2 linked regions of the Homo sapiens genome follow. Changing the gene in region 1 together with any one later gene gives a genetic interaction. Each region holds a gene or a part of one and is shown on either strand. Other genes may lie near its edges. The genes, in order: COPZ1 and REV3L.

Evidence for each region.
Region 2: changes in COPZ1 (region 1) and REV3L impair growth when combined (synthetic growth defect), as found in Homo sapiens cells (one large-scale study listed by BioGRID).

What each region holds. Positions count from the first base shown.
Region 1 is NC_000012.12:54,338,609-54,342,429, reverse strand, and holds part of COPZ1 (coatomer subunit zeta-1), read right to left. Parts: intron 1,968-3,821; exon of another isoform or gene 1,926-1,967; coding exon of another isoform or gene 1,884-1,925; coding exon 1,815-1,883; intron 225-1,814; coding exon 143-224; intron 1-142. UniProt on the Homo sapiens protein: The coatomer is a cytosolic protein complex that binds to dilysine motifs and reversibly associates with Golgi non-clathrin-coated vesicles, which further mediate biosynthetic protein transport from the ER, via the Golgi up to the trans Golgi network.
Region 2 is NC_000006.12:111,473,179-111,476,999, forward strand, and holds part of REV3L (DNA polymerase zeta catalytic subunit), read right to left. Parts: exon of another isoform or gene 1,068-3,821; intron 1-1,067. UniProt on the Homo sapiens protein: Catalytic subunit of the DNA polymerase zeta complex, an error-prone polymerase specialized in translesion DNA synthesis (TLS). Lacks an intrinsic 3'-5' exonuclease activity and thus has no proofreading function.

The sequences.
Region 1 (3,821 bases):
GAAGAGTTTATTATACAAGGGGAAGAAGGAAAAAAAAAGAAAAAGGCAGAGTCATTTCATCCTTTCTCTGCAGCCCTGTTACCACCCCCTTTCCACCATGGTTCCCCCCAGCACGGGTAGTAGTGAAAGGAAAATGACCTACTGTCAGTCCGATGGGTCTTGTTGAAAATGTTCTTCTCAAAGGCCTTTTGCTCCTTGACACTGGGGTAGGTGTCGTCATAGTACTGGTCAGAGGGAAAGAAGACAGGGTTGGGTCACTAGAGCTGGAAGCCAGAATGATTAGTGACTATGTTTTGCCCTGGGATCTTGGATTTCTCTCCTTCAAGGCATGGGGCAAGGGAGAAATACTGACATGGAAAAGGAAGGATTGTAGAGGCAGAGAATGGGCAGTGAGTAATCCAAGAAAAATAAATAAAAGACCCTGCCATAAGCAACCCCACCTCACATTTCCAAGACTGTCTGAAGGCAGAAGCCTACCAGCCCTACAGTGAGGCTCTGCAGCTGTCTGCAATCTAGACCTCTCCTAAAACCATTCTCATCAAGTGTTTCCTAGGAGCTACCCCATGTCAGGAAGCAGTGCCAGAGAACACAAAAAACACTAGAAGCACAGAACACTTCCATAGACCCTCACTCACTGTATGAAGCTGAGGAATGGGGAAAGGCTACAAAAACCTCCTCCAAAGAAAGGCAAACCCTGCCCTATGATCTATCTTAGCTTTCTTTTCTGCAAGCTGAAAGAAGCATCCAGCATACCACTGAGCCCATTCCCAGGCTCTCCCTGGCAAAGGGGGCGGAGATGCAGGCTGCTAAATCGCTAGCTCTTTAGGGGCTAATCCGTCGCAGTCAGCTGAAGACCCATGACAGGTCTGGCATTTAGTAACTGGATAACTGTTTCAAAAGGTGTCCTGCATAGTTACATCCAATTACAGGGAGGAACAGCTGGTGAATTCTAAACTAATCTCTACCTGCTGATTGATTTATGCTACGCTCGCCCGGAGTTAATACACCAGGGACAGAAGAAATTTCTACAGGAGGGGGAGAATATGGAGGGAGAGAGGGTGTCCTTTCTTCTTTCTTCCAACAGATCTAAAGTTGGAAACATCACTCTGGGAAAGTCAGGAGGTAACAAGCTTGATGGTGACTATAAACCTAGGAATGGAAACCTGGAACTGCAAGACAATTCTCTGGAAAAACCCAGGCAGGGTGACATGGTATGAGGGAAGGGGACAGGAATGATGGACATGGGCGGACTGCCTCTTAGCATCTACATACTGCTTTGTTAGGAACCAAAGTTTCAAAGCTTTTCCCTGATCTGATGCTGACAACAAAGGAGGTCAAAGTCTGAGGACAGCAAGCAGGGCAGCAGTACAACTAAGGGACAAAAGAAAACAGGTTTTATCTGGAGTAGGCAAGATAAGATGGAAGAATTCAGGCCGGGTGTGGTGGCTCACACCTGTAATCCCAACACTTTGGGAGGCCAAGGCGGGCGAATCATGAGGTCAGGAGTTTGAGACCAGTCTGGCCAACCTGCTGAAACCCTGTCTCTACTAAAGATACAAAAAATTAGCCGGGGGTGGTAGCGCGTGCCTGTAATCCCAGCTACTTGGGAGGCTGAGGCTGCAGTGAGCCAAGGTCACGCCATTGCACTCCAGCCTGGGTGATAAGAGCGAAACTCCATCTCAAAAAAAAAAGATGGAAGTATTCTCAAAATTATACTACTGAGGAACATAAGTTAATAAGGTATCAGTCCCAAGATTCAAATCTCAGAATAAACCTTTGTGCTGTTCCTAAACTAATTCGAAAGGGAATCTCACCTTGGCAAAAAGTCGATCTCCATCATTGTCCAGAATCAGGATGGCTTTGACAGTATACAGGGAAGGTTCCTGAAGAGATACGAACATACCTTCAGTCCTGAAGCCTCCCATCACCACTGGTAAACCAGATACCTTCCCCTAGTCCCACTGGGGCTGCAAGGGGATACAGAGGTACCTCTGTAAGTCCCTTACCTCAACTTGGTCAGATTTTGATATTTCCCATTGAGAAAGACCCAGGGTAAGTAAACTGAATTGACAGAGAAAGCATTTAAACAAAGGATTCCAAAGTACCATCAGAGAAACAGTTTCTCTGACTCACAGGGGGCTTAATCAAGAGAGGTCATGCTGTTATTTCCAAATATTATGGTACAGTTATTTTCCAAATTACCCTCTCCCTTCCTGCTCTCCCATGTACAGGTGGCTATAGAATGTGACCAGATTAATTAAAAGGCACTGAACAAAGCCATTTGAAAATAGGGTTGAATGTCCTAGTATACTTGGAAGTTTCTGCAGTCCGAATGCAGTAGCAATGCAGAAGCATAAAGCAAGCCTTCCCTAAACCACCCACACACTAAGCAGAGGGAAAAGAGCGTTTACACACACACACACACACACACACACACACACACACACACGCACAGGCACACCAGTTCTCAATGCAGCCTAGTAAAACAGCCATCTTCAAAAACTCTCCTATGTTCTCCAATTCTTCCACTATACCTTAACCACTACCACTTAACTTCCAAGGACAAAAGCCAACCTGAATTTTGGGGGAGTTAAGAAGCAGTGAGAAGATGATCTATCTGAGAAACACTCTGGGGCCTAGAGTGAGTGAGCAAGAGGGTAATTTTTTTTCCACTACCAAGAATCAAATAAGGAATCACGGCCTCAGTCTTAATGGTTCTTCTTCAACTGTAAGTATATCACTTGCAAAACCTGTGGTGGTCTGTTGCTCTCCTCTACCACTGCAACTTCAAGGGAGCCAGCTAACTAGGAGAAGGAAAATCGCAGGAGGCTGAGGCAGGAGGATTGCTTAAGGCCAGTTCAAGACCAGCCTGGGAAACACAGGGAGACCCCCCATCTCTACAAAAATAAAAAAAATTAGCCAGGTGTGGTGGCGTGCATCTATAGTCCTAGCTACTCAGGAGGCTGAGGTGATAGGATCTCTTGAGCCCAGGAGTTTAAGACCACGCTGAGCTAGGACTGCGCCACTGCACTCCAGGCTGGGTGACAGAGTGAAACCCCATCTCTAATTGATTGAATAGAAAAAACCAAAAGTGTGGAGAGATAGTGATGTGTGCATGAAAGGTATTTGCAGCCTCACATTCCTTGACTTTCTTTTTTTTTTTTTTTTTTTTAAGAGAAAAGGTGTCACTGTATTGTTCAGGCTGGTCTTGAACTCCTAGGCTCAAACAATCCTCCCACCTAGGCCTCCCAAAGTGCAAGTGTGAGCCACTGCGCCCGACCTACATTCCTTGACTTTCTAATCAACATTACTTACCATTGATATCCCTTGTGCTGAGACAAGGCTGTTGCTTTGCTACCTCTTTCCTGGCCTTATTTAAGAAACCCACAGTCCTCACAGGAGCCAAACACAAAAGTATGTGTTTGACAGATATCCAAGAGTGAGGAGGAAAAAATCATTGCCAAGAACCCAGAAACTGCAGCCTCTACAAACATAAATTGCCTCATGAGGCTTCAGGAGGTTTATGGTTCCATGCAAAGAATCAACCCTGTTTGCGGGGGCAGAGGAGGGCAGTTCAGAATGGAAGTAAAAGGAACCCAGTCTTTTGACAACAAGGTGATGAGGAACATAAGCTTTCCCTACTTGAATTCTTGAGGACTGCAATTTTTGTTTTGTTCGCTGGTTTGTCCCATTTGTCCAGAACAATGCCTGACACATACTAAACTCTCAATATTTGGTGAATAATTCAGAGAATAAAGGAAGTTTGAGAATAAAGTTAAAATACCTTGACGCAGTATGCATCTAAGGGACTACTTATAATT
Region 2 (3,821 bases), on another chromosome or scaffold:
ACCTACTTTAACCCAACCTATTTAGACTTGAATCATTTTTCACTTAGATTTTTTTTTTTTTTTAAAGAGACGGGGTCTTGCCATGTTGCCCAGACTGGTCTCAAAATCCTGGGCTCAGGCAATCTTCCTGCCTCTGCTTCCCAAAGTGCTGGGATTATAGGTGCCTGGCCCTAGATTATCTTTAATTGCGTGAATTCTAATCCAATCAAAAGCAAGATGAGAGAAAATGTAATTATAGTACCAGAGGAACTTGAAAGGTCTCATATATTCCCTCCTCCCTTTTTTGGAAATAGCATACATACGATTTTAGTATCAATTTTTATTTATGTTTGCCCTAAACTCCTTTTGCTATAATCTTTTGTTTTCTTAAAGATACAGCCCAAGTCATCATAAAACGAATCCTACTATAATCTATTCTAGATTATAGAATATTAATAATATTATTATATAAGAAGATTCTAAGCACTATTAGATACAGTAGGGTCTCAAAGATTTCTGAACTACATATGTGCAGTTCTTTTAATAATTCCTCTGAGGTTCTGTATTTTTGTCTTTCAATTATCATCAATGCCTTCCTCCAATATTCCCTCATGTTTCGGGGGGAGAGGGGGTCAGTGTGAGGTGATGAGAGCTGAAGAGTCAAGATCCAAGATCCCCAATTTTCAAATCCAGCCTCACACCAACCAACTGTAGGACACTGGACAAATCCCTGAGCCTGCTATGTAGATTTCAGTTTTCTTCATACAAAATGAGTACATTTGACTAGAATGATGCTTCTCAACCCTTTTAACATTGCAAACAAAACTTGTCAGCAAAAAAAAATTTAGCACACTGGACAACAGGAGGGCATTTGGAGGCATCTACACAGTGCCTGGTGAAAAAAAATTATCATATTTTCTAATTACAGAAGAAAAAATGTAAAGTGTTATGGTAGATATTTTTTGACACATGTAATGCTGAAAATTTTAATATGAATTTCAAAACCAAACATTTTCACATCAAGAATATTTCAAAATTAAAATCATGCTTTATTTCTGACAAACATACATGCACTATTAGGCAGTCACCTTGCAGAGCATATCAAACGCACGTGGTGAGCAGCATCCAATACAGGTGAATACAGATAGTCAGGCCTGGAGCTGGGCCACCAGAGACACCCTCCCTGCTTCCTTGTCCTCTCATTGTAAGTGGGTTGCACCTTGTGGTAGGTGGCATGTTCCTTCGGCACCGTGAATACAAACTCCAGTAACAATTCCATGATCCCTTTCCCACAAAAGGCAGCTGTACACTGTGGCTGGCTGCTGAAGTAGATTCCAAGTAGTAAGGCACACCTCATTTAATGCACTTAAAATATCAAAAGGAGCAGTATGCTGCTTTTAACTGTTGGTTGTCACTCACCATGCTATTTGTTCACAGGAACCCCAACGCCTTCCTTCAGCCCCCATTCTACTAGGACTACCCTTCTGTGAGCCATGTAACATCAACTGAAAACTTTGAATTAGAAGATCTCTAACAATAACTAAAGTTAAAAACAGTATTGCAGTAATCATTTGTTTGTAACAACTATTATGGTCTCTTATTTTTTCCTTCTTACCAATTCCTGTAAGCAAAACATAACTTAAAAATATTAACTTTGAATAGTATTACATGCACATGATTTTAAAATACTGAAAAATTACCAAACAGTATACTTTAAAAGTTAGTCCATCTTTGTCCTCTAGGCAACCACTTCTACACACTGGAGCAATTACTGTCATCAGACTCTCCCGTATCCTCCCATGCACATTACATTCTATAGCTGCCTATATATACACACACACACACACACACACACACACACACACATATGGATTTTATTATAATAAAGAATTTTATTCTAATACATAGGCATATATAGCATATAAAAATATATATTTTAACCACACGAATGGCAGCAAACTGCACATGCAGTCATGCCTCTTGCTTTTTTTCCTCATATCTTTGACATAGCACCACAGCAGTACACATAGTATTCTCTCATTATTTTTAAAGGCTGACTAGTATTCTGTTGAATATATACACCATAATTCACCTAACTACTTCCCTACTGATATGTTTAGCATGTTTCCAATCTTTTGCAGTAACAAATAATGCTGCCACAAATATTCTTAGATATTTATTTGACATATATGCAAAATCTTCTAGAGAATAAAATCCTATAATGGAATTACTAGAACGAAATAAATCTGTGTTTTAATTTTTGAAAACCATTTTCAAACTGCTTTCTATAGAGTATGAATACTTTATAATCCCACCAGCAATGTATAAGGCTGACCATTTTCTCTTCTCACCTTTCCCGAGTTATACTATACATAACCTTTGCTCATTTGATAGGTGACAAAGAGTATGTTGTAGCTTGAATTTACATCTTTATTATATTATAAATAAAGTTGTACATTTTTTCATATGAATTCTCTTTGCTAATTTTTCTACTGGATTATTTTCTAGTTCTTTGTATTAAGAGGAACTTAGCCCTTTGTGAAGTATACAAATAAGTTTTACTAGTCTGTTTCTCTTTTAACTTTGTTTGATTTTTTCCCCTGTACAGAATTTTATTTTTATGTCCTAAAATCCAGCAACCCAGTATGCTATTAAAGGACTTCACCAATCCTGGATTACGTAAAAAATAATTACCCTACCTTTTTTGTTTCTTTGTTTCATATTTAAATCTTTAACTCCTCTGGAAGCCAACATTATTTTTCCAGATGACTAACTGGCTATCCCAACACTGTTTATTAAACAATTCTTCTTTTCCCTACTCATAAATGAAGGTGGGATCCATTTTCATATACAAGTTGAATACCCCTTATCTGAAATGCTTGGGACCAGAAGTGTTTCAGATTTTAGAATATTTGCACATACATGAGATATCCTGAGGATGGGACCAAACCTGAATGTAATTTTATATAATTTTAAATAATGTTACACATGAAACAAAGTTGTTTTGATTGTTTTTGAGACAGGGACTTGCTCTGTCACCCAGGCTGGAATGCAGTCATACAATCATGGCTCACTGCAGCCTTCACCTCCTGGGCTCAAGCGATCCTCCTGCCTCAGCCTCCCAAGTAGCTGGAACCACAAACGTGTACCACCCTGCCTGGCTAACTTTTGTATTTTTTTGTAGAGATAGCGTCTTTCCATGTTGCCCAGGCTGGTCTTGAACTCCTGGGCTGAAGCAATCCTCCCACCTTAGCCTCCCAAAGTGTTGGGATTACAGACATGAGCCACTGCATCCAGCCTGAAACGAAGTTTTGACTGCGACCCATCATGAGGTCAGGTGTGGAATTTTCTACTTGTGGCATCATGTTGGTGTTCAAAACATTTCAGATTTTGAAGGATTTCAGATTATGGAGTTTTAGATAAGGGATGCTCAACCTATATTAAGCTCTCATATATATTTAAGTTAATTCTAGTCTTTACTCTGTTTTAGTGCTGTCATGTGCCAAAACCATGTTACTTTTCAAAACATTTTAAAATTAAAACCACTTTACATACAAGTAAGAATAATACAACCAGAAATTACTGGCTTGCTTTAATTTATGAATCATTTTGCAATTTCTAAATGGAATTTATATAATTAAGTTCAATATGATCATCATGCAATCATGCATTTTGGTTGACACATATTTTGGAGACCATTACGAATCTCATGTCTCCCACTACATTTCTGGAACCATATCTAGAAAATCAATTTTTCCTTAATTTTGTACATGGTTTTTTTAAATTATAAAATCAGCACATGTTATCTGTAAAAAATCTGAAAATATAAAACATACCTTCCA